Homo sapiens: one gene and its partners. The protein of the gene in region 2 purifies or fractionates together with the protein of the main gene of each other region. This does not show direct contact. Each region holds a gene or a part of one and is shown on either strand. Other genes may lie near its edges.

What was found.
Region 1: the proteins of FAM170A (region 2) and NTPCR purify together in Homo sapiens (co-immunoprecipitation; one large-scale study listed by IntAct). This does not show direct contact.
Region 3: the proteins of FAM170A (region 2) and ACAT2 purify together in Homo sapiens (co-immunoprecipitation; one large-scale study listed by IntAct). This does not show direct contact.
Region 4: the proteins of FAM170A (region 2) and STARD13 purify together in Homo sapiens (co-immunoprecipitation; one large-scale study listed by IntAct). This does not show direct contact.
Region 5: the proteins of FAM170A (region 2) and FRMD4A purify together in Homo sapiens (co-immunoprecipitation; one large-scale study listed by IntAct). This does not show direct contact.
Region 6: the proteins of FAM170A (region 2) and CAMK2B purify together in Homo sapiens (affinity purification with mass spectrometry; one large-scale study listed by BioGRID and IntAct). This does not show direct contact.
Region 7: the proteins of FAM170A (region 2) and VAPA purify together in Homo sapiens (affinity purification with mass spectrometry; 4 studies listed by BioGRID and IntAct, with this or other methods). This does not show direct contact.

Annotation. Positions count from the first base shown.
Region 1 is NC_000001.11:232,971,111-232,974,610, forward strand, and holds part of NTPCR (cancer-related nucleoside-triphosphatase), read left to right. Parts: intron 1-3,500. UniProt on the Homo sapiens protein: Has nucleotide phosphatase activity towards ATP, GTP, CTP, TTP and UTP. Hydrolyzes nucleoside diphosphates with lower efficiency.
Region 2 is NC_000005.10:119,632,558-119,636,322, forward strand, and holds the end of FAM170A (protein FAM170A), read left to right. Parts: intron 1-190; coding exon 191-331; intron 332-1,402; coding exon 1,403-2,177; intron 2,178-2,470; coding exon 2,471-2,477; 3' UTR 2,478-2,529; intron 2,530-3,142; 3' UTR 3,143-3,265; downstream 3,266-3,765. UniProt on the Homo sapiens protein: Acts as a nuclear transcription factor that positively regulates the expression of heat shock genes. Binds to heat shock promoter elements (HSE).
Region 3 is NC_000006.12:159,768,545-159,772,044, reverse strand, and holds part of ACAT2 (acetyl-CoA acetyltransferase, cytosolic), read right to left. Parts: coding exon 3,417-3,500; intron 1-3,416. UniProt on the Homo sapiens protein: Involved in the biosynthetic pathway of cholesterol.
Region 4 is NC_000013.11:33,107,756-33,111,255, reverse strand, and holds part of STARD13 (stAR-related lipid transfer protein 13), read left to right. Parts: intron 1-348; coding exon 349-570; intron 571-1,165; coding exon 1,166-1,383; intron 1,384-3,500. UniProt on the Homo sapiens protein: GTPase-activating protein for RhoA, and perhaps for Cdc42. May be involved in regulation of cytoskeletal reorganization, cell proliferation and cell motility. Acts a tumor suppressor in hepatocellular carcinoma cells.
Region 5 is NC_000010.11:14,328,125-14,332,081, reverse strand, and holds the start of FRMD4A (FERM domain-containing protein 4A), read left to right. Parts: upstream 1-1,157; 5' UTR 1,158-1,485; intron 1,486-1,898; 5' UTR 1,899-1,979; coding exon 1,980-2,024; intron 2,025-3,957. UniProt on the Homo sapiens protein: Scaffolding protein that regulates epithelial cell polarity by connecting ARF6 activation with the PAR3 complex. Plays a redundant role with FRMD4B in epithelial polarization. May regulate MAPT secretion by activating ARF6-signaling.
Region 6 is NC_000007.14:44,221,095-44,224,594, reverse strand, and holds part of CAMK2B (calcium/calmodulin-dependent protein kinase type II subunit beta), read left to right. Parts: intron 1-3,500. UniProt on the Homo sapiens protein: Calcium/calmodulin-dependent protein kinase that functions autonomously after Ca(2+)/calmodulin-binding and autophosphorylation, and is involved in dendritic spine and synapse formation, neuronal plasticity and regulation of sarcoplasmic reticulum Ca(2+) transport in skeletal muscle.
Region 7 is NC_000018.10:9,931,016-9,934,515, reverse strand, and holds part of VAPA (vesicle-associated membrane protein-associated protein A), read right to left. Parts: intron 2,707-3,500; coding exon 2,554-2,706; intron 1-2,553. UniProt on the Homo sapiens protein: Endoplasmic reticulum (ER)-anchored protein that mediates the formation of contact sites between the ER and endosomes via interaction with FFAT motif-containing proteins such as STARD3 or WDR44.

The DNA of each region.
Region 1 (3,500 bases), on a different chromosome or scaffold from region 2:
CTTTCTTTCCCTGTTGTCCCTCTGTTTTCCTCTCAGTCAGATATTGCTTCTCCCCAACCCCTACCCTTAGTTTCTTTGAGTCAGTGGTAGCTGTGCTCTTGGCTGAGCTCTGCTCACACACCTCACTCCCCACCCCCAGTTTAAAAGCTCCCTGGCCCTGCAAGTGCCAAGTGAACAAGTCAGGCAGGCAGGGCCACTCCTATCAGGGGGAGTGGAGAGTGAGTACCCGTGAGCACCTTCCTCATGATCATTTTAATCACTGAGTGAAATGTCACCTTGGCCCACTGGCAGTATCCACATGTTGCCACCAAAGAATCCTGGAGTATCCACATGTTGCCACCAAGAATCCTGGAGTGTGGTGGTAAACAGCCATTAGGGTTAGACCAGCCAGACTTGGAAAAATGTATGCGCTTCTTTATTGATTTATTTATTCCTTCATTTGGTCAATAGTGATTGAGCACCTACTGTATGCTAGGTGTCATTCTAAGTCTTGGGATACTGTGGTGAACGAGACTGACCAAGGCGCTGCTTTCATGGAGCTTACATTCTAATGGAGGAGCTGAATACCAAAAATGTGAACAGATAAGTTAAGCAATTTCAGATACTGATAAAGGCAAAAATAAAGAAACCAGGCAATGTGGTAGTTGGGGGCAGGAGTAGCAAGGGCGATCAGGGAAGGTCTCTTCAAGGAGGTGACATTTGAGAGCCCTGAAAAGTCTGTGGGGTTCTTCAGAGTTTCATGTCGTCTTCTCTTATTTTACATTTTTGGTTGTGATTATAGAGTTTCCATGGAAATCAAGGCAATGAATAGTGAAAGATCATGAAAGAAAATTAGTTTTGAGGTCAGATAGCTTCTAGGCTGGAAGACCGGGAAATTGCTAGTGTTAGACTCCAGGGATTGGCTAGTTCCACAAACTAATCTAATCTAACAGTCCTAAGGAAGGATTGAAAGGAGCTGACTGTGATGCCCAGAAACAGACTTTGTGTCTTAGGATCATACCACATTTCTTCCGCTCTCTGAGACTCAAAATTATTCTCCAGGCAAGATAATCATTGCTTCTAATGATCTGTAAATAAAACAATTAGCTTTGAGTTAATTAAGTAAGAGATAGGGGCTGACATACCCTGTTTTTTTTTGTTGTTGTTGCTTTGGGGTTTGTGTGGTCCTTCTGTTTCAGTTTTATTTTATTTTTTATTTAACTTATTTTTTTGAGGGGGAGGGACAGAGTCTTGCTCTGTTGCCCAGAGTAATCTGTGCTGGGATTACAGGTGTGAGCCACTGTGCCTGGCCTTTTCCAGTTTTATAAATCAAGAACCTCATTTTCTTTTTTTCTGAGACAAGGTTAGTCTCTGTGGCCCATGCTGGAGTGCAGTGGCATGCTCTTGGCTCACTGCATCCTCTGCCTCCTAGGCTGAAGCCATCCTCCACCTCAGCCTCCCAAAAAGCTGGGACTACAGGCATGTGCCACCACACCTGACTCATTTGTGCATTTTTTGTAGAGATGGGGTTTCACCATGTTGCCCGGGGTTGATCTCGAATTGAAGAGCTGAAACAATCTGCCTGCCTCAGCCTCTCAAAGTGTTGGAATTATAGGCATGAGCCACTGTGCCTGGCCAAGAACCTCATTTTCTTTATCTGCAAACTTAGGTGTTGGATTAGATATATTTTTGGGTTCTTTCCATTGCTCACATGCAATAAAGTATCCGAATCCATTTTTGAGAGTGCCCTTCACATTCAGTACTTAGTCCATCGTTTAGGCACCTGTGAGGCATGATCTCTGCCCTCAAGAAAAACAGACCATGGGGCAATCAAAATCTAGGGGCAGGGAAGGGAGAGATCTATGTGAGCAGTGGTAGTGGAGAGGTGTCCAAAGGAAGGGGTTCTTGAGTTGGCTCTTGAAGGAGGAAATGGGAAAAAGAAGGGAGAACATTCCAGGTAAGAAAATGAGCTATGAAAAGGGGTCAGAGTCAGCGTCCCCTTGCTACCAGCTGAACATGCGTAGTGTGAAGATGAGACTGAGCCCGTGATATGGGGGAAATGTACCACACGAATTAGTAATATTATCTAGACTTATTCTTCACAATGTTGGGTGAACAGAGTACTTTCCAATGAATATGCATAGTGTGAAGATGAGACTGAGCTCATGATATGGGGGAAATATACCACACAAATTAGTAATATTATCTTGACTTATTCTTCATAACGTTGGGTGAACAGAGTACTTTCCAAAAACACCCGAGAACTCTTCCAGTTTTAGACAAGATAGAGTAGACACACTTGTGTTTATTTTTCCTGCTAAGGATGTTATTTATAATACAAGCATAAGAAGACCTGAAAAGTGAAGAGAAAAAGACAGACTGGCTAGGAACCTAAGGACCTAAGGAACAACACAACAGACACAACTGAAAATCATTTGTCATGCCAAGAATCAGGAATACCTAAACCTGAGTGAGGAAAGGCCATCAGCAGATCTCAACAGCAAGGTGACTCAGATAGTGGAATTATAGGGCAAGGATTTGAAAACAGCTATCATAAAAATGCTTCATAAAATTACAGATACACATGAAACAAATGAAAAATAGTCTCAGCAAGAACTGGAAAGTTTCAGCAAAAACCTAGAAGATAGAAGAATCAAATGAAAATTTTAGAACTATACAATAGCCAATAAAAAAGTCACTGAATGGGCTCATCAGCAGAATAGAGATGACAGGAGAAAGAATCAGTGAACTTGAAGGTAGAACAATAGAAATTACCTGACAAAGAGCAGACTTAAAAGAAAAAGTAATGAACAAAATGAACAGAGTTTCTGGGACCTGTGGGACTATAACAAAAGATGTGACATTCACATCATTGTAGTAACAGGAGATGAGTGTGGGGTTGAAAAAGTGTTTGAAGAAGTAATGGCTGCATTTTTGTCATATTTGGCAAAAGACATAAACCTACATTTTCAGTGAACCCCAAGAGGATAAACTCAAATTCATGCCAAGACATACCATAGTCAAACTTATGAAAATTAAAGTCTTGAAAGCAGTGAAAGGAAAGCAGCACCTTACCTATAGGGTAAAAACAATATGAGTGACAGCAGATTTCTCAGGAGAAACCATGAAGGCCAGAAGGAGGTGGTACATTTTCCAAGTGTTGAAACAACTGTCGACTCATAATTCTATAAGACATTCACAGATGAAGGAAAACTAAGAGAATTTGTCATAATAGAACTGCTCTAAAAGAATGGCCAAAGGAAGTTCTCTTATCAGAAAGGAAATGGTAAAAGGAGACCTGGAACATCAGGAAGGAAGAAAGAACAATGGGAAGAGTAAAACTCTGAGTGAGTGTAGTGGGCTTTTCTTCCTCTGTTGACTTTTGAAGAATTATGTTTGACAGTTGAGGCAAAACGATAACATTCTCTGATGTGTTAAAAAAAATAGCTGAAAAAAGAAAAGAAAGAACAGTACCTGAGAAGGAAAATAAAATCTCACTGATACAATCTTTGGCACCTCCT
Region 2 (3,765 bases):
TGATACACTATCAAAATACCTGTTGACTGTAATTAAATACTGGAGTATCCACCAGAAGCCTGTCTCACAAACCATGTGTGTTCACTACACCTGACATAGGTCAGCCACTCAGTAAATATTTGTTGGATGGTAAATGATGCACAAACATTACCCATCCATCATATCTCTGTTCCCTTCATACCTTTCTCAGGAATGTCAAAGTCCCAAGAGGATGCCCTGCAGCCTGGATCCACTAGAGTGGCCAAAGGCTGGAGCCAAGGGGTGGGAGAAGTTACTTCTACCTCCGAATACTGCTCCTGCGTTTCTTCTTCACGCAAGCTCATCCACAGTGGTAAGGGTGCAGGGTTCCTTCGGCACGTGGCTCCTTGGCTGTGGGGTTCATTGGGCATGAAAATATTTGAGTGTGGGGCTCTGTGGGCATGAGACTCTTTGGTTGCAGTGCTGCTTGGGTGTAAGACTCTTTGGGAGTGGGGCTTTTTGGGTTTGGGGCTCCTTCGGTGTGACAGTCTTTGGGTGTGGGGCTCCTTGGATGTGACATTCTCTGGGTGTGAGGTTCCTTGAGCATGAGACTCTGGATGCAGGGCGCTATGGGTATGTGACTCTTTGGGTGCTGGACTCCTTAGGCATGGGATTGGGTGCAGGGCTCCTTGGGTAGGGGGCAGGAGGCCCATAGATCCAAGGATGAGGCTAAGAAGAAACCCAGGGCAGTTGGATATGATCAGAGCTCTGCAGAGGTGTCTGGGCAAGATGACAGAGCTGTTAGAAGAGCATGGATATAAGCTCAGTGTAGGAGAGCATGAGCCCTGGTGTGCAGTCAGGCAGTCAGGGAGCAGAGGCCAGAAAAGTCTGCTGTTGGGGTGTAGGGCCACAGGACCAGATTAAGCACTTTCATCGGAACTATTTGGGCTCTGCCTTTGCCTTCCAGAGAAAGACAGATTTCCTCAGCCCAGGCCTCCAGCACTGCAGCGGGACTCTAGCTCAGGCCCACACACCTCACACATACAGCCACACGCTCCACAGGTACACTTTCTGCACACACACCACCCAAATGCATGACCTGCAGTGCCATTCTCCCACACTACCTCCCACATTCCACAAATAACACATCAATGATGGCACCAACTCACATCCTCATAGCACACACATGCTGCCGACATTCCACATATGCTGCAGTCCTCACCACCATACTCCACACCCCTGTATATGGACACCCCACCAACATCCCTACACGCAAATGACACTAGAATCACTACCCCACAATATGAACAACAAATACCAAGCTCACTACACAGCTGCATCTCACCACAGTCCCTGTCTCCTGCACCACACATATTTAACTTACGTTCCCTCAGCTCCTAGCATGGCCCATGCATCTGCTCATGTTTCTAATTTCCTTTCCCAGGAATCCAGAGAATACATCGAGACAGCCCCCAGCCTCAATCACCCCTGGCCCAGGTTCAGGAACGAGGAGAGACTCCTCCCCGCTCACAACATGTCTCCTTGTCGTCCTATTCATCCTATAAGACTTGTGTGTCCTCTCTGTGTGTAAACAAAGAGGAAAGGGGCATGAAAATATACTACATGCAGGTACAAATGAACAAAGGTGTGGCTGTCTCCTGGGAGACAGAGGAAACTTTGGAGTCCTTAGAAAAGCAGCCAAGGATGGAAGAAGTGACCCTTTCTGAGGTTGTGAGGGTAGGTACTCCCCCCTCTGATGTGTCCACCAGAAACCTCCTGTCTGACAGTGAGCCCAGTGGGGAGGAGAAAGAGCATGAGGAAAGGACAGAATCAGACAGCCTGCCAGGCTCACCCACCGTTGAGGACACACCCAGAGCCAAGACTCCTGACTGGCTGGTGACCATGGAGAACGGCTTCAGGTGCATGGCCTGCTGCCGGGTGTTCACCACCATGGAAGCCCTCCAGGAGCATGTGCAGTTTGGGATCAGAGAGGGCTTCAGCTGCCACGTCTTTCATCTCACCATGGCTCAGCTGACAGGCAACATGGAATCAGAGAGCACCCAAGATGAGCAGGAGGAGGAAAATGGAAATGAGAAGGAGGAGGAAGAGAAACCAGAAGCAAAGGAGGAGGAGGGGCAGCCCACAGAAGAAGACCTTGGCCTGAGGAGATCCTGGAGCCAATGTCCAGGCTGTGTGTTTCATTCTCCAAAGGACAGGAAGTGAGCAAAGCCTGGGTTGTGGGTCTGCTGAGGGAGCAATGGCTTCCCCGAGCCAGTACTGTCTCCCCAGTTCAGGCTTAGGTCTCTGTAAGGAAGATTTGGGGGCTTTATTGGCTCAGGGAACAATGGAGGGGGACATAACTGGGATCCCTGCTTCTTGCCTAGGCATCTAATAAAGTCTCGATTGTAAGTCAGGATTTGTCTTGACCTTTCCAGCTCCTGCAGGAAATTCTGAGAATTTCAAAAGTCGCATTAACTAAGAAGTGTCTTTCTTTGGTTTGATTTTCACACAGCAGCTGAGACTTATGGGCCAGAAGATACTGGAAGATGGTGTGGCCTTCTCTTGCAAGAGGTAAGGAGTGAGACTTGCAGTTTTCTGAGGCTGTGTTGTGAGGGCCCAGAGGAATCCAAGGGAAGGAGCTGCAGGGATGCACTGGGTCACCTGGTGGCTCTGCAGCCACATCAACTTATCGTGCACCTGGTGCTTCTGGGGGAATTGTCCTCCATTTGCTTAGATGACAAGGTGAAGAGCATTGACTGGGAACTTTCTCAATGTCTGCATGATTGTCCTCAATTCTAAGAGGAGGTGCTGCAGCTCTTCTAGGCAGCGGAAGCTCAGTGTAACCTCAAGGGCCAGGATTGGCCTGAAAGGACAGGATGCCAGCAAGATCAGAGGTGTGGAGTCTGAGAGCCTTTGGCCTGAGCTGGGATCCCACCTGAGCCCATAGATATAGCCCTTGGGGAAAAGGGGAATTTGGAGAGGTAACAACATCATCCTGATGAGACACCAAGAGAACTGGAAATGTTTCAGAACCTTCATTTTGCTGCATTTGATCTGGAAATGAACTCACTGTGGGTTGCATGACTCTGAGCTTCAAAACAAAGGTGAAGGGTAACTGACTAGCAATGCTTGTATTGTTTCTTGCCTCTTCCTCTTCTGCCTCAATTGTTTTCTTCACTTCCAGGGAGAAGAAAGAGCCATGGAGATAGTAGCAGACAGGCTGCCCAAGGTATGAAGCAGATGAGGGACCAGCACTCAGTCTAACATGTAAACATCATACGTAATAAAGGTTGTGTTTCAAACCTTACCTGGATATATTATTTAATTAACAAATTAATCTACCTATCTATTCATCATTTTCTTTTTTTTTCCTTTTTCTTTTTCTTCTTCTTCTTCTTTTTTTTTTTTTGAGATGGAGTTTCATTTTTGTTGCCCAGGCTGGAGTGCGATGGCATGATCTCGGCTCACTGCAACCTCTGCCTCCTGAATTAAAGTGATTCTCCTGCCTCAGCCTCCCAAGTAGCTGGGATTACAGGCATGTGCCAGCACACACAGCTAATTTTGTATTTTTTTAGTAGAGATGAGGTTTCACCATGTTGGTCAGGCTGGTCTCGAACTCCTGGGCTCAAGTGTTCTACCCGCCTGGGCCTCCCAAAGTGCTGGGTTTGCAGGCGTGAGCCACGGCGCCCAGCCCTATTCATTATTTTCATCTATCTCTCCAGTGGTTTGTGAACGAAGTTTTACATCAGCACTAAAGATATCTACCAGCCTTTTCCAGAGGCAGCAATAGCCAAGCTCCTGGGTTTG
Region 3 (3,500 bases), on a different chromosome or scaffold from region 2:
ACCGTGTTAGCCAGGATGGTCTCAATCTCCTGACCTCATGATCCGCCCGCCTCGGCCTCCCAAAGTGCTAGGATTACAGGCGTGAGCCACCGCGCCCGGCTGGAAGCTATTCTTTTGTTGTTGTTGTTGTTGTTGTGTCACTATGTTAACCAGACTGGAATGCAGTAGATACTCACAGGTGCAATCATAGTAGACTATGATAGCATTGCCCAGGCTAGACTCAAACTCTTGGACTCAAGCAATCTCTTGCCTCAGCTCTTGAGTAGGTGGGACTACAGGCACATACCACCATGCCTGGCTCCTTTAGTATTTCTTGTAGTGTAGGTGTGCAGGCAATTCATTTTCCTTCATCTAAAAATGGCTCTTCACTTTCACTCTTGTTTTTTTTTTTTTTGAGACAGAGTCTCACTCTGTTGCCCAGACTGGAGTGCAGTGGCATGATCTTTTTTTAACTTTTTGCTACAATTTGCTAAGGTGTAATTTTTCCCTTGTCTATCTTGGTCTTTGAACTTCTTTTCACACCAAATGTGGAAATTTTCTTCAGTTTTTTTCTGCCCCATTCTCTCTCTTCCTTATGTATGAGATTCCTATTCCATGCATGCTAGTCCTATTTATTTTGTCCTGCAGACCACCAAGGCTCTGTTCATTTATATTTTATTTTTTTGAGACGGAGTTTCATTCTTGTTGCTCAGGCTGGAGTGCAATGGCGTGATCTCAGCTCAACGCAACCTCCGCCTCCCAGGTTCAAGCGATTCTCCTGCCTCAGCCTCCCGAGTAGCTGGGATTACAGGCATGCGCCACCAGCCTGGCTAATTTTGTATTTTTAGTAGAGATGGAGTTTCTCCATGTTGGTCATGTGGGTCTCAAACTCCCGACCTCAGGTGATCTGCCTGCATTGACCTCCCAAAGTGCTGGGATTACAGGCATGAGCCACCACACCTGGCCTATTTTTTAATTTAATTTAATTTAATTTAATTTTTTGAGACAGAGTTTTGTTTGTTACCCAGGCTGGAGCGCAATGGTGTGATCTCAGCTTGCTGCAACCTCCACCTCCTGGGTTCAAGCTATTCTTCTGCCTCAGCCTCCCAAGTAGTTGGGATTACAGGCATGGGCCACCACATCCAGCTCATTTTTGTATTTTTAGTAGAGACAGGGTTTCCCCATGTTGGCCAGGCTGGTCTTGAACTCCTGACCTCAGATGATCTACCCGGCTTGGCCTCCCAAAGTGCTGGGATTACAAGCGTGAGCTACCGTGCCTGGCCTGTTCATTTATTCTTCATTATTTTTCTCTGTGTTCTTCAGGTCGTGTATATGATCTATCTTCAAACTTCCTGACCCTTTTTCTTCTGTCTCCAAGATGCTGTTAAGGCCATTCAGAATTTTTTTTTCTTTTTTTTTAGAGATGAGGTCTAACTATGTTGCTCAGCCTAGTCTCAAACCCCCAGCCTCAAGTGATCCTCCCACCTCAGCCTCCCAAGGTGCTGGGATTACAGGTGCGAGCCACCATGCCCGGCCCCATCCCAGTGAATTCTTAATTTCAGATTGTGTACTTTGCAAGTTCTAGAATTTCTATTTGGTTCTTGTTTATATTTTTTCCTTTTACTCCTGAGATGTCCACATCTATTCCTCTATGAAGATTATATTTTCCTTTGTATCTTTAAACATATGTAAAATAGAGCCTTTAAGATCCTCATCTGATAATTCTAGTATTGCAGGGTCTGTTGACTGTTGTGGTTTTTTTCCACCCTGGTTGTAAGCTATATTTTCCTAATTCTTTGTGTATCTAGAAAGTTCTCATTGCATGCTGAACATTATAGTTGCTACATAACTGGACATAGAGATTTTATTATCTTTAGAGAATATATTGAGTTTTGTTTCCACAAGCAGTCAAAATACTGGCAAATCACCTTGATCCTTTTGAGGCTTGTTTTTAAGCTTATTAGTTTGGGTCTAGAGTAGCTTTTACTCTATGGCTTTGGCCCTACCCCTAAACTGTGGTCTTTCTGAGATGTCAATGGAGTGTCCAAGGAGTTCAGTAAGGTTTCCACTCGCTTGTCCAGAACTTTTATCTCCTAGTAATCTATAAAATCTCCAGTTCACCTCTCCTTTGCAGCTCTTTTCTACTAGGCCTTGTAAGCTGTTATCTACAAGCTTAGTATTTGATCAAAGACTTAAGGGGAACCTTTTGCAGATTTCTGGAGCTCTTTTTTTCTTCTCCCCCTTATTCTGCCCCACAAACTCCAGCCATCTCAGAAGCCCCAAATTCTCTGCTTCTTCAGATCACTGAGACCACTGTTTCCAGCTTAGGCTCTGCCTCTCCATAACACAGTTTGGGAAGTGCCCTGGGTAGAGACAGTGACAGTGGGGTTTTCCCTTCTCTCAAGGATCTCAGTCTTACATGAGTATTAGTCAAAACCTGACATACATAAAACAGTGGCTTTATATATTTTCACAAGTTTTATGCTTGTTTATAGTAGGAAATCTAATCTTTGTCAATTACTCCATCATGACCTGAGCCTTTTTTCTTTTCTTTTTTTCTAAAGAAGAGCAATTTATTTTCTTACAGTTCTGGAGGCTGGAAGAGTACCATTCAATCCACAGTACACCTTGGAAAGGGCTCGGGATCTGAATTTTTAATGACCACCTCTAGTTATGGTTGAGGCAGTTGGTCACACAGTGTCTTCCATTGTCTGCCTGTGTTTTTATAGCCTTCTCTGTTGTGGCTGTAAGTCGAGAAGTGGTCAAGATGCCTTGAGCTTCTCATTGCTTCCCATATCCCTAAGCCCTTCCTTCCTTCCTAGCATTCATGCACACAGTTCCCTCTTGGAATCTTGTACTTTTCCCCATTACCTTTTTCACATATTTATGTGTTACATAAAACCAGAGCCATTGCTGCATGCATTTGAGCAAGGTGCTTAACTTCTCAGGGTTTGATTCTTTAACTCTAAAATGTCTATTCTGTTTCTTAAGTTTTACATGTATACTAAAGACAAGAGTGCTTTTGATTTCCCAGTTGCTTTGCCATTAAACTTAGACCACAGGACCCTTCAGCATGAATGACCAATAACCCAATTGTGTAGTACAAAAAGTACAGCTAGGTACCAAAAAAACAACTGGTTTATCTCTGTCACTACCTCTGCCACAGAAGCACTATTTGTGGGCCCTGTTTCTTCATTTGGTAAAATGAGGGGTTGATCCAGAAGAACTCTGAGGTACTTCCCACTTCTAACATTCTCTGATAATCAAGAGTTCACAAAGAAGAGAATACTTACTTCACTTCAGTTAATCAAAGAAGAGATATAAAAATCCTTAAGACAGTCTCTGGCCATAAGGACGAAAGCACCTAAGAAGCAGATTAGTATATGGTCTTTTTAACCTTTTTAAAGCTAATACAGTTTCAGCCATGTCTGCCTTACCTGTAATACCCATATGACAGTTGTGAAATGCATCTGTAAGACCATCACAGAGTATACTGTCAGTCAGTGGCATCTCACCTATCT
Region 4 (3,500 bases), on a different chromosome or scaffold from region 2:
TCTGTCTGTTTTAAGTCTTATTCATAGTGGGTAAAGTTGTCTGAGCCCATATTTTGCCAAACTGAATAAAAAGACAGTAAAGGTAAAATAAAAGGGAAGTGAAAATAATAAAGGGGAAGTCATTGCAATGTTTTGAATAATAAATACAGCCTCAGAAACATGTTTGTATTTCCTGACTTTAGGAAGGCCCCTCCCGGCCTTGGCAATGATCTTAGAAAAACATCTCTGGCCGTGTGGCCCTCGGCCCGTGGCTCAGAGCCGGGTTGTGGGTGAAATGGCTTTGCTTTCTTTGAGTCTCGGCGTTTCTTTGGCTCAGTGTGTTGCCCTTTCATGCATCCGTTGGTCTAGGTTCCACACGAGTTGGTGGCCCAGTCTCGTAACTCGTATGTGGAGGCTGAGATCCACGTGCCAACCCTGGAAGAATTGGGGACACAGCTGGAGGAGAGTGGGGCAACTTTCCACACTTACCTGAACCATCTCATCCAGGGCCTCCAGAAAGAAGCCAAGGAGAAGTTCAAAGGATGGGTCACGTGCTCCAGCACGGACAATACAGATCTTGCTTTCAAAAAGGTAATCTCAGAGGATGGAAAAAGATCACCCCCAGAAAGCCACAGCTAACAATCAGACATTTGTTTTTGCATTGAAAACAGCTGCTGTGTCCACAGGGCTTGGCACACACGCGGACAGTTAAGGCACATGAACCATTCAAAGAACTCAGTCCAGAGATCTGTTGCCTATAATCAGAGAGTAAACTATGGAGCCGGACAGCTGGATCCCGGTCCTGTCTCTCCCCCGTAGCTGTGTGATGTTGGGCAAGTCACACACCTCTCTGTGCCTCAGTTTTCCCATTTGCAAAATGGACATTGTAAGAGTACCACTGTCGGAGGAAGGCTAATTTACAAACCAAATGGCTTAGAATAGTTCCTGGCACACAGTAACCACTAGGTGTGTTGGTGATTATTATTTTTATCATCATTATTATTCTTTTAAGCTTAAGGACTAAAATGTTACAGCTGAGGTATGTAGTATCACTCTCAATTTACATAATCAGTGATGGTTTTTGAACACCCAGCAAGGTATGATAGCAAAACTAAAAGCCCAAACAAAAAATGTTGGACCCATATCCCAGACAACCTCTTCAGCTTCTGACGTTGTCTTTCCCAAGGTGGGCGACGGGAACCCGCTGAAGCTGTGGAAGGCTTCTGTGGAGGTGGAAGCACCCCCCTCAGTGGTCCTGAACCGCGTGCTGAGAGAGCGCCACCTGTGGGACGAGGACTTTGTGCAGTGGAAGGTTGTGGAAACTCTAGACAGGCAAACAGAGATCTACCAGTATGTGCTGAACAGCATGGCTCCCCATCCTTCCAGAGACTTTGTGGTTCTCAGGTGAGCCTGACTCTAGGGTTTATGATGTTCTGTTCCAAAGGCAGGACGCGAACTGTAGATGTGAGCACTTCTCCTGGTGTCTCCCACCAAAGTCCAGCCTCCACGGGGAACACTAAGCCGGCTCTTGTTTCCCTCAGTGACATCTGAGTTTTCTGTGTCGATGCCCGACTTCCTGTGTCTTTTCACCCAGCCTACAGCTCTGCCTGGGCTCTCTGATTGCCCCTCTCCTTGTGGAGCACACAGTTTATTAGGCCATAAATATTATTCATTTCCTCAGAGCAGACGGCCCAGAAAAGCTGCTGTTTGTCCGGTTGCACTTTCTGCCAAATTATGCAAATGGATCTGACTGGCTTTTCTTCTGATTTTGTTTTTCTCCCCTGGGAAAGTGTGTGTAACTCTCAAGACTGGAGTAGGTTTGACTTCAGAACTCATCTGTATAACTTCAGATGCTCATAGCTATTACTATGCTCAGAAACCTTGGCACTGCCCTGGAGGTCCAGAAAATCTTGTTGATTCTGTGTCTGCCAAGGAAATATTTCTTCTGATTGATGTAAGGGTTGAGTTCCAGACCCCTGTTCTTGGGGTTTGGAAGGGGATGCTCAACCAATGATAGAAAGTTTGCACAGTAGAGATGCAGTGTTGCATCAGCCAGAACAGAAATTGAGGGTGCTAAAGAACCTGAATAGAAGGTAATTAGATCAATATATCCTTTTTTATTGAAAATCTTGGCAAGCCTTGTCTCATGTCACAGATCAGCAGTGTAAAAGGAACCTATTGTGAAACTCCCAAATGTATATTTAAAACGCTTTCTTTATGAAACCAGTTTTGATGGCAAACTAAAGGTTACTTTTCACATGAGCTCTTTATGACTTGGGAATTGGCCCATGGAACCTTGACTTTTAAAGGTCAATTTTCCCTAAATATATGTATTTATCTCTGCTTCCTTGGGATCCTGCTGGAGAATGCAGGCAGTTTATAAGGGTGGCATATTACCAAAGTTATTAGGACATTAGTCATCTGGTGGAATTAAACTTCATGCTTTCACTCCACAAGTGGAAAGTTGAATAGCTGTTGCAGGATGGCTGCCATAGGAATGGGGCCATGCCATAGCGTGCCTCCTCCCTCCCTCCAGAGGAGGCTGAGGGCCTGAGTCTGTGTGTAGAACCTCCCTCCTTCCATCCATCCGGCAACCCCACCAGCCTGCTATTTATCAGTGCTTCGTTCCATCACGACCACGTGCCAGGCACTGCAATAGGCTCTGGGTATGCCAAGGGAATGCAGCAAACCCCTCTCCTGCTCTCTTGGGGTTTGTATTTCACTGGGGAAAGTCCATAAAAAATAAGAAAGGGAGATGGGCTTACTTATCCTGGGAGGAATAAGATAGGGAGATAGTAAGGGATGGAATTTTAAATAGAATGGTCAGGGCGGGGTCTTGCTGCACTGATTTTGATCCAAGACTTGAAGAAGTGGAGTGGACCATGTGGCCCTGAAGGAGAAGAGGTGCAGCCCTCCACGGGCTAACAATGAACCAGATCTGGTTCCCAACAACAGGAATTCCTTATGTGTAGGATACAAGGAGGTGGAAAGTGATGAGTGTGGTGAGGAGGCACGGGGCTGAGATGCCTCCTGTCTTCAGAGCATCTTACAGTCTAGGCTAGCATGTATGAGGCTGGTCACCTTTCAGGATTGCTGCATTTGTCTCTCATGTCACACCCATTGCTAGCTCCTCGGGAGCTTCCGCTGAGAGTTGCTGGAGATTCTCCCATTTATCCCAACAAATCTCTACAACTTTCAGTCGTCACGATTTATCACATCTTCGTTCATGAAAAGAGTAGTCACAGCATGGAAGTCGCTGAGCATTTGTGTGGGGCTTGGTTATTCCCAAGTTCTTGTCAAGCACATATCACCATTTCTCTTCCTGGTGTAGGAGGACAGGGTGAAATCATGGAGGACATGACTTAGTAAGGGAATAGAATTTGTGGAGTAAATCATGGGAATTCTAATAATGCAATCTATTATGATAGATCCCTGGGGTAGAAAGGGAAGTTAGAGGTTGTTACAGAGATGTTCTCATAGCTCCTGACTCCCATCCACAACCTTTTTTCAAGGGGTAGCCA
Region 5 (3,957 bases), on a different chromosome or scaffold from region 2:
CGGCTAATTTTTGTGTTTTTCATAGAACAGGGTTTTGCCATGTTGACCAGGCTGGTCTTGAACTCTTGACCAGGCTGGTCTTGAACTCTTGACCATAGGTGATCTGCCCACGTCAGCCTCCCAAAGTACTGGGGCTACAGGCGTGAGCCATTGCACCCAGCCTTCACTCATTTATTGAATATATTTTAGTACTTACTCTGTGCTAAGCACTGTGATGAGCAAATACTTTTTATTTTTAAATTTTTTTAGAGACAGAGTCTTGCTCTGTCCCCCAGGCTGGATTGCAGGAGTGCAGTCATAGCTCCCTTCAGCCTTAAACTCCTGGACTGAACTGATCCTCCCACCTCAGCCTCCCAAGTAGCTGAGACTCTAGGCACACACTACCATGCTTGGCTAATTCTTTTATTTCTATTTTTCTTTTTTTTTTTTTTTTTTGTAGAGATGAAGTCTTGCTATGTTGCCTAGGCTCACCCTGAATTTTGGGTCTCAAGCTATCTTCCTGCCTCAACCCCCAGAAGTGCTGGGAATGCAGGTGTGAGCTCCCATACCTGGCCCAAATCAATAGTTTTAAAAGTATAAGTAATAAAGGAACAGTAGCTATGCTCGTGCACAGGAACATGAAAGGTCATTAATTTCTTCCCCCTAGTTTCTTATTTCGAAAACTGTTCTCTATGTTTCTACATTTCACACTGTCTAGTTAATTTTCAGGATTTTTTGGAGCCATTACAGGAGGTGAGTAAAGGAAGAAATCAGAAAAGGACATACTAGAAGTATCAGGAATAACCATTTTTAGTTGAATACATGGACTCCAGAAGAAGATACAAGCTTGACAGTGCTCATGAAAAGATATCTAATTTTCTTAAGTCTTTGACTCTGGAAAGCCCTTTGAGCTACCCATTATATAACAAGATTCGGCAGGTTTTTTCTTTCTCCCTTCATTGACATCTTCCGGGGAAAATGCTGCATGATATGATTTTCAAGGCTAACTTGCCTTTTCCTGTTAAGCAGTGTCCCTTGTGACAAATTCACCTCCTATGCCTCCCTGAACTAGGGAGGCTCCTTCAAAATTCCTAACAGGCAGCCCTGTGGAGAGATGGGAGGGAAGGGATGGGAGGGAGGAAGGGCGGGAGGAAGGGAGGGAGAGAGAGGTAGAGTGTGTCTGTATGCGGCGTACATGTGGTACAGCCAGGGAGATCAGAACGCTCACAGAACAGGCAGTGCAATTCCATGTTCCTCTTAAGTATGTTAGCCCTACCGGGAGCTGAGCTGGCCAGTCTACTTGGAGAGGAAAAGTAGATCTGGGGAAGGTGGAAGGGTCAGTTCCTAAGTGACTTCCTCCTCGGGGATGGTAAGGGCATTTGCTGATCTCCAGTGACTGCCTGGTGCCTCATGGTCAGACTCGGCTGTCTCACTCCCAGATATCTGATTTTGCAAAAAGGGACACACCTATCTGCAGCAAAGAAGACACTGACCAGATTGCGAGCGGTATGTTGTGACATTCAGCATGTTTATGCAGCAGAATTGCTGAGAGATGCAGAGAGAGGGGGTGGCTCGGGCTGCTTGATTTATCTGCAATAGGGAATGTTTTATTTTAATTGTCAGTTAAAGGAAGAATTGCTGCCAGGGCGAAGGTAGCAGTTAAACATTCCGTGTTCTAAGCTTTCACGTTTGTGTTTGATGCGGTCTCCCTGTCTGTGCCGCTTTGCGAAGCTAGGGAGGGCTCACTTTTAAATAACCTGCAGCTTCCTATTTTCCTTCTTCTTTTTTTTTTTTTCCTCCCTAAGCACAGTTCCCACCCTGTCTTCCCTGACCTCCTCCCCACCCTGTGTGAAAGGTGGCCTATCTTCCCCTTGAGCCTTTTGCTCCCTAAGTCTGGATTTTGGCTGCTTTTTCTGCAGGTGCTTTTGGATGCTCTGTAGCCACCCGGGGCCCAGGAGGACTGACTCGGCAGCAGGATTCGTGCATGGGAATCGGAGACCATGGCAGTGCAGCTGGTGCCCGACTCAGCTCTCGGCCTGCTGATGGTGAGTGTTCAGACAGGAGGTGGGGCCCGGGCAGCGTCCACTCCAGCCTCCCCTGCACCGTGGGCTGCTGCTGCCGCTGCAGTGGCTGCAGACATGTTCAACATTGCTCCGCTTTATCCCGCAGGCTCTTTGGAAATGCTTTCTTGGGTCAGAGTATCAGCATGACAAAGCACTTGCAGGGAAAAGAAGCTGTAGATTTGCCATTTCAGAAACTTGTTGCTGAATGCTATTTTGAGAGCTGTGCTTGCAAACAGGTGCTAAGAGCCCCTCGAAATAGATTGCTAGGATGCCTCCTCCAGCTCCCAGCATCCTTTCCCCCTTGTCTTTTGCATCTAAATTGAGCTGATTGTGTTTGTTTTTGGATATCTTCTCAGGGCAACTGTGGAATCTGTTGCCCATGGGGTGACAGAATGGGGTCTTCTTTCTAGGCGCCCATATATCTGCTCATACTTTCCTGTAGAGGTGGTGGAGGAGGTTCACTGTGGCTTCAGTGATGCTTGGGCTACTGAGTTGGGAGCAGCTTGTTTCCTATCTACCATTGATGGCCAACCTTGGCAGGACTTGTCCAGGCATTTATCTGTGTGTGAGCAGCTGACTCACCTTATGCCCCTCTGGAATTTTCACCATATTAAGAAAGCCCTAGCTCTTACCATATTAAAGCACACAAGGACATGGGCACTGTCTTGTTCCAACCCAATTGGCTTTTGGCTTGACACTAGGTTCAGCAGTGGCTTTTGCCATGGTTTTGCATCTCTCTCCTTTCCCAGGGTTCCCACACACCACGGTAATACTGGCTGTTGTCGGAAGTAGCCTGCATCAGGCTTGGCATGGAAATGTTTCCAGCATTTACACAGGAGATTTTATGAACCAAGCATAAGTGCTTCTGTGTATATTGATTTGTGTCTTCGGAATGAGGAGGGGAAATGCAACTTTGCAAGGCCTGATGAGTTTATGGAGGTGACTTGGAAGAGCCGTCAGTGGGAAGCCTGCCCCCTGGGTGGCAAGCCAGGTCATGTTAAAAGGAACAGATATCTTGGTTCTTCGTTGCTCAAAATTCCACTGGGTCCACAGATTTAGTTGAATTGCCTGAAATCTATCTCATGGGCCTCTGCTGACTTCTCATTTCACTGGGGGAGTAGGACTAGAAGAAATGAAATTGTCAGTTTCCAGAGAAATTACCCATTACCTGACTTCTTTCCCTTACTAATTCTATCGTCTGATGATACTTTATCCTCCATCGTCTACCTGTGGTCAAATAAACTGGATAGGAATTTTCATTCCATCACTGAGTATTCGTGATGATGGCTGGCACTAAAATGCATTATCTATGGGGTCTAGGAGACTTCTGGGAACCTGGGAGCCTGGGTTATATGCTCTGAAATACAGGCACACATATGCACACACACACACACACACACACACACACACACATGCATATGTATATTATATTATCTAGTACACTAACAGAAATAAATCCTGCATCGTGTTAATATAGAGGAGAAAAGTTTTCTTGAAAAATATCTTTAGGGAGAGTTAGACCCGCTTGTCTCAGCCTCCTACTTGGACCTTTCTTCTATACTTAGAAGAAAGATGTGTATCTGCTTTATTCCAAGCCCCTAAGCATGAATCCTTGGTATCCAAATTAAATGAATAGCATCCATTTCTGCTGTTATACACCCCCCCCCCCCACCCACACACACACACAGGCTCTTCTGGTCCTGGGTCTTCCACATATTATGGCTGCTGTCCTGGTAGTGTCTACATCTCAGACTTCACCTTCCATTTGTCAGTGGCCTCTGCCCTTAGATCTGTCCCTGGCACTCTCCTCCTGCCCGGAAAAAAGGATCGTGTTCTCCTCTCTTGGAAACCAGGGGAAAGAGCTCTTGACACCCTGATGGACCGTTTGATTAAAGAACCCTGGAGTACCATGTGT
Region 6 (3,500 bases), on a different chromosome or scaffold from region 2:
GCCTGCCTGGACCTGTTGCCTCACCCCAAGAGAGCCACAGGCAATGCAAAGGCTCCTGTTCATGTCAGGGCACCTGGAAGGCCTGACTTGCAGAGGCTCTTGGCTCGTGCAGACCCCTCCAAGCCCAGGCCCTGCCCACCACCTCCCCTTTGTCTCTGGAACTGCCAGGACAGCTTGTCCTCAGCCAGCAGGTTTCCCGACCCGGGCACCTCTTCATGTTGGGCCCCCCTCCTTTCCCTCCATCAGGGATCATGCCCTTCTTCAGGGGCCTGGATATCAAGGACACAAAAGCTCCCATGTGCTATGTGGGGAGGCAGAGTGGGGGCTGGGTTGAGCTGGGGTCTGGGCAGCGCCATTCCGCAGGGCAGGGGCAGCCTAGGCTTCCCATCTGTGGAATGGGTGGGTGGGTCTCACAACGGACCTGCTTCCCGTACTTCAGCACGGTTACCACTCTTGATTGGAACTCTGACCATGCATCTCCTCTTCTGTTTACTTCACGCTTTCTCTTCCCATCAACTCCCATTTTAATTACAATTTGTTTAAAAGCACTGCATATTACTTCATTAAACAGAAGATTAGTTTCACTTACCATTAGTGTAAGGTGACTATAGAACCAAAGCAGACTGGAAACCAAATGACATAATGTCATTCTCTTCTCCATTCCAGCTGCCTGCTGCTGTGCGCCTGAGAACCCCTGTGGAGTGGGAGGGGCAGCTGTCTCTGTACATTAGAAAGGGAGGTTAACTAAGTGACAGGAGGTGTTTGGGACATGTGGACACCAGACTTCTCTCTTGATGCAAGGAGGGCAGAGCCAGGCAGCCTAGTGGGGGCTGGCTTGGGGGCTGCTGGAAGGACTGGCTACAGGTGGAAGAGAGGTCAGACCTGAAGCTTGGGGCCACCTCCAGGAAAGGACAGGTGAAAGTGGAGGCATGAGGCAGGGGAGAGGCAGGTGCCAGGCAGAGGGTGGAGAGGAGGCAGGAACATAGCAGCTGGGGCGGGGGCGGGCCTCAAGTGTCATATGCTACTTTCCTGGGGCCCAGGGGCAAGGACAGGAACAGCCACAGCATGTGTTGGGACAGAGCCCTGTGCCTTCCTAGAGCTGGGCAGGTGGAATGGGGCAGGAATGGGACTCGTGGTGGCTGCAGCAGGAACTGGAGGGGAAGGGGCTTCTGGATCCTGCAGCCTACCTTCCTAGAGGCCAGCTTTCCGGGGTCCACCAGGTGGGTGGGAACTGGGCTTGTGTAGCAAGACTGCCCTGAGGACCATCCATGACATGGTCTAGATGAAAGTTAGGAAAGAAAGGGAGACAAGCTGGCAGCAGAAGTACAGCTGGGTCAGGAGCAAGGGCCTTTCCAGATAGGGACAACCCAAGAGTGCACATGTGCCCACGCCACACAACACAGGCACACACGACACGTGCACGCTCATAGGCACTGCACACACACATGCACAGGTGCTCATGCATATGTATGAGCTTCATCTACACACATTCACATGCCGTCCTGCTTATGTGCATGTTTCCATACATGCACATGAATGCACAATCACGTGTACACACATGCATGTGATCACATACATGAACATGTGTGCACCCCACTCCTCAGGTGCCATCGGGCTCCTCCTGCTGTCACTGTGCAGCAGGGGACATGAGGCCCCAGAGCAGACAGGTGCAGCACAGGCGTTCCCAGGCAGTGCCCCACACACATGCATGAGCACACCCGGGCATGTGGCGCCTCCTTTGTGGACTCAGTCACCTGCCAGGTGGGCTCCCTGGTGGTGTGAGCTCCCAGAGGTCTGGCGAGAGAGATAAAGGCAACCCCACCACCAGGCGTGCTGAGAATTCCCTCTTCTGGCTGGGCACAGTGGCTCATACCTGTAATCCCAGCACTTTGGGAGGCCGAGGTGGGCAGATCACTTGAGGTTAGGAGTTTGAGACCAGCCTGGCCAATATGGTGAAACCTCATCTCCACTAAAAATATACACACACAAAAATTAGCTGGGTGTGGTGGTGTGCACCTGTAGTTCCAGCTACTCGGGAGGCTGAGGCAGGAGAATCGCTTGAACCTGGGAGTCAGAGACTGCAGTGAGCCGAGATCATGTCACTGCACTCCAGCCCGGGTGACAGAGTGAGACTCCATCTAAAAAAAAAAAAGAATTCCCTCCTCTGGGAATTTAGACCACAGACAGGTTGCATGTATGTGGCCGTTGGAGGCAGCACTCACAGCAAAGAGTGGAAACGTCACCACAGGGCCTGCCTTCTGGTGAAAATGGTGTCCTGCAGGGCGGGCAGCTGTTTGAGGGCAGGTGTCCCAGGTGCGGCCTGCAGCAGCCTGAGGGTCACAGAGCGCAGTGCTGGGAGTGCAGAGACTTCCCCCACAGGGAGAGTTCCCAGGAACCTGCTTCCGGTGCACTTCTGGGGGTTTGAGTTTTTTCCACGGACGAATTACTTTGAGAAACCACTGTTACTCGTGTGTATAGGTGAGCGTGCGTGTGCATGTGTGTTCTGTGTGTGAGTGTGCATGTATGTGCGTGCCTGCGTATATATCCTCGCAGATACGGCTAGGGACCTCACTCAGGACAGTAGTTCTGCCTGAGGAGAGTGAATGCGGCAAGATTGAGGAGAACACAGGCATCTTCAAACTACATGTGCGGTGCTTTATTTCTTTAAAAATGCGTCTAAAGCAAATAGGAAAATGTTAAGATTTGAATCCGTAGAGTGTGGGTTCTATTATTCTCTCCACATCTTCCATACGTTTAAAATCTTTTGCAATGAAAATAAGCTGTAGTTAAAGCAGCAATGCAGGCTGCCAGTGAGCGCCCCGGAGGCCAGTGAGGACCAGCATGGCTGGGTGGCCTGTTGGAATCCAAGGGGGGCGGGCAGGAGCTGCAGGCAGGCGCCCGGGAGTAGCCCGGGCATGGGGGTGCGGGGCAACAGGGATGTCTGCAGGGGTAGCATGTGGGCCCCGGACTGCAAGCAGGTGGAGCCAGCCGGATGCGGCTCCTATGAGAAAAGCGGGGAACAAGAGACCACGCTCGTTCTTCCTGCTGCGGGGACAGCCCTGGTCATCGCTCCGGGGAACCCTGCAGCCTGCGCCGCACGTGGCCGCCCCCTGCTGCTTCCTCCTCCCCGGCCTCCGGGTGGCCTTGCTGACGGCTCCTTCTCTGAGGCAGGTCTCTGCCTTCTCGCCTGGTGCCTGCACTCAGTAGCCCCCTCACCAGAGCTGCTGGGTGAAGGAAGCACTAAGAACCCAAGGCTCGGGAGGAGAGTGGGGCCGGGAAGCTGCAGGGAAGCGCAGGGCCAGGCCTGGTGGGCCCAGGGGCTGGCTCACGGGAGGGCAGGAGGGAGACTGTGGCGGACAGCACGTGGGGCCAGGAGGTGACCTCCAAGTGGATTGTGGGTGGGTTTTTTGTCCTCTTTCTGCATTTTCCAGGCATTTTGTAATGTGGATAGAATATTTCTGTTCTTCAAAAATACTTTAGTTAAGAAAAATAAGATGGAA
Region 7 (3,500 bases), on a different chromosome or scaffold from region 2:
TTTTTCAAGGGGCCAAATACACAGCAGCAGGAAATGTACTGGATAAAATGCCTCAGAATACAGCTTAAGCTAAATAAAATTCCATTAGCAACCTTCACTGAGTTAATGATTATAAGCTAATCACTATGAACCAAAAATTTGTGAATAAAACGAAAACTTACAACATGGTTAAGTTTATAGGAGTTATACTCTAATTTAGGTTGCAGACCACATAACAAGACAAAGACGATCTTGAAAACATATATAAAAATGTGCACAAATTGAAGCAAATTCAAAAAACAAAGCGTCAAAAGGACACAGGGAAAAAGAGAAATGAGCATGTAGTACAGAGAATTAACCAGAGAAGGTTGTTGGAAGAAGCATAGCTTTGAGTGACTGTAAATGGAAATACACTACACTAAAAACTGGAAAAGCCAAATTCTAATTAAGTAGAACAATCCAAGGGCATGTTTGCGTAATCAGTAACCAGTTTGTCTGAAGGTTTTAATAAGTCAGGTTTCTGTGGGAGAAAGTGTTTTGATACGTTGTTTTCTCAAGAAATATTAATACACAGAAACCAGCAATCTAGGCCCCTCAAAGAAAAAGTCATTCTGCATAGTTGTATGGATTCCTAGGGATATAACTGTTTGTACCAATAAACTATTTTTAGCCATGTGGATTGAAATAATTATATCTTCTGGCCAGGCGCAGTGGCTCACGCCTGTAATCCCAGCATTTGGGGAGGCTAAGGTAGATGGATCACTTGAGGTCAGGAGTTCGAGACCAGCCTGGCCAACATGGTGAAACCCTGCCTCTACTAAAAATACAAAAATGAGCCAGGCATGTTGGCACACGCCCGTAATCCTAGCTACTCAAGTGGCTGAGGCAGGAAAATCACTTGAATCCAGGAGGCGGAAGTTGCAGTCACCTGAGATCACACCACTGCTCTCCTACCTGGGCAACAAAGCAAGACACTGTCTCAAAAAAGAAAGAATTCTCTCTTCTTCCAATTGTGCTAAAGGCTTAAAGATGTAGTAGAAAGCAGCAACATGCAGAGTGCATGCATTCCTTCATCTTTATTTCCCATCTCTCTTTCCCAGGAACTGATGAATTAGACTTAGCAAAGAAACATGAAAAGCACTCCTCCCAGGCCTCCTTACCGCAAGACTCACTAAAACATCTTTTTCCTAGCTCTTGAGGTTTTTGGCTATACCTGCTGAGGGAAGATTTAGTGTCACCAAGAACTCTATGGTCTGTCCTTCATGGCCTTTGTAGTCAGGCTCCACCTCTAAATACTCTCTCAATGAGCCTACCCTGGGTTCTCTCTCTCTGTACCCAATTCTGCTGTGGACTTGAAAACTGATACAGAATTATTATAATATCTTAGGATTACTTATCAAGATCACCCAGGCTTTTTTTTTTTTTAAGGTACACTTTTTTTGTTTGTTTGTTTTGAGACGGAGTCTTACTCGTGCAGTCTCCGCTCACTGCAACCTCCACTTCCTGGTTTTAAGCAATTCTCTGCCTCAGCCTCCCAAGTAGCTGGGACTACAGGCGCCCACCACCACACCCGACTAATTTTTTGTATTTTTAGTAGAGATGGGGTTTCACCATCTTGGCCAGGCTGGTCTTGAACTCCTGACGTCGTGATCCACCCGCCTCGGCCTCCCAAAGTGCTGGGATTACAGGCATAAGCCACCGCGCCCGGCCTAAATGTAACATTTCTAAGTCATGCTCCTAGAGATTCCAATCTGGGAGAGATGAATCCATGTGTGTTCCTGCTCCCTGTGTTATTACAGCATATAGTGGGAGTTGAGAAGTACTGCTGTAAAGAAAGAGTAAATGCAGCCTGAGAGGTTCTCCCCTAAGTAAAATACATGGAACCATAAAAGTTCTCATATTTACTTCCTATTTCCTATTTCTCAGCTATATTAGTGAAGTCAGAGGGACTGAGAAAGAAAGAAACAGTTTATAGGGGGCATTAGATATGGTACCAGTATCAACTCCACAGCAGGAGTAAGTAATCCATATATGGCAAGCATACTTCTTTGACAAGTAAACACATAAGAGAGTAGTAAAATAAAAATAAAGTTTTCACACACAGGACACTGTTGACATTTACAATGAAAGGCATAAAGACTCATCTGATTTGACACAGTAGGCAAAAAAGTGGCATTGCACCTTTTTAAGCAAAAGAATTATGACACTTCTATAGCTGCATGCAATGTGTAATATGATCATGATCTGAAGGAGAATGACCCATCAGAAAAATGATATAATTTTTCAAAGATAAAATAACAAAGGCAGAGAAGGTAGTGGTTAGCTGTAGAAATAAAGACTAAAGTTTGTAATTGACAATAATTTCTTATAAACTGACCACACTCCCTACACAGAAGATGAGTGAGAAATTTTCTGAAACAGCTTGCAGAGTACTGTAACAAGACATCTTTAAAGGCAAAACCAGAATAATATAAGAATTATTTCCCTCCCTCCAGATGAAACCTTATTAAACAAAAACATAATCATAAAAGGTCAAAATTCAAATGTACATAAATTCAGAACATGATTTGCTACCTGAAACAGTCACAGTTGACCCTGGGTCAATAATTCCACTGTTGGGCCTCACACAGTACCGGCGAGGTGCTGTAGTCTTCACTTTGAAACACACTTTTCTATCCGATGGATTTCGCAATTTAAGATTTGTAGTGACTACATCTGTGAAGGGGCCTGTAAAGTTTAAAAATTAAAGAGAAAACAAAATTTAATTGGATTCTCAACAACGAAGGATTCAAAACTGAAAATATATAACCTCAATTTTAATTAAGTGCTGACATTTGTAGGCATAAATATCCCAAATGGCTACTAACACTGCCTTTCTCGAGGTGGCAGACTTAAAAACAAGTCATATTTTCTTCTTCATTCCCTGTATTTCACAAAATTTCTACCATAAACATGTATGATTTCTATCAAAAAAGTACTATGAAACTTTGGATCTATGAACTTTACAACTGTATTTTTACAGTATGTTGTTAATACGTTGCTGAAAATAACAGAATTTCCCAGTTGTCTGCAAACCAGTGTCAATCTTCAAGTTCATTTTACTAGGCCAACTGCAAAAATCTCTACATCTGAAGACCCTACACCCTATGACATCAGTGCTTTTGCTTCACCTCAATTTTGTTTGTTCATTCATTCAATCCATTCATTCATTCACATATTTGTTAAGTGTTTATTATGCCATATGCTCTAGATACAAAGTTTTTAAGCTTTGGTTCTGCACCCAAACAACATAAAATTACAAAACAAAGAACCCAAAAGGCTGATCCATTTTGCTGAAGAAAAGCCTGAAGAAAAATTATGCAGATTAATTTAGACAACAAAATAAATACCTGTTAATTTGGAGGAAGAACATAAAAACATGTTCCAGTTGGGAACAATAACCACAGTTCTAAGTATTCCAAAAGTAATTTTAAATCGTTCTAAAAACAATTCGTTTAAAGTTATGTATTTTTTAAAAAAGC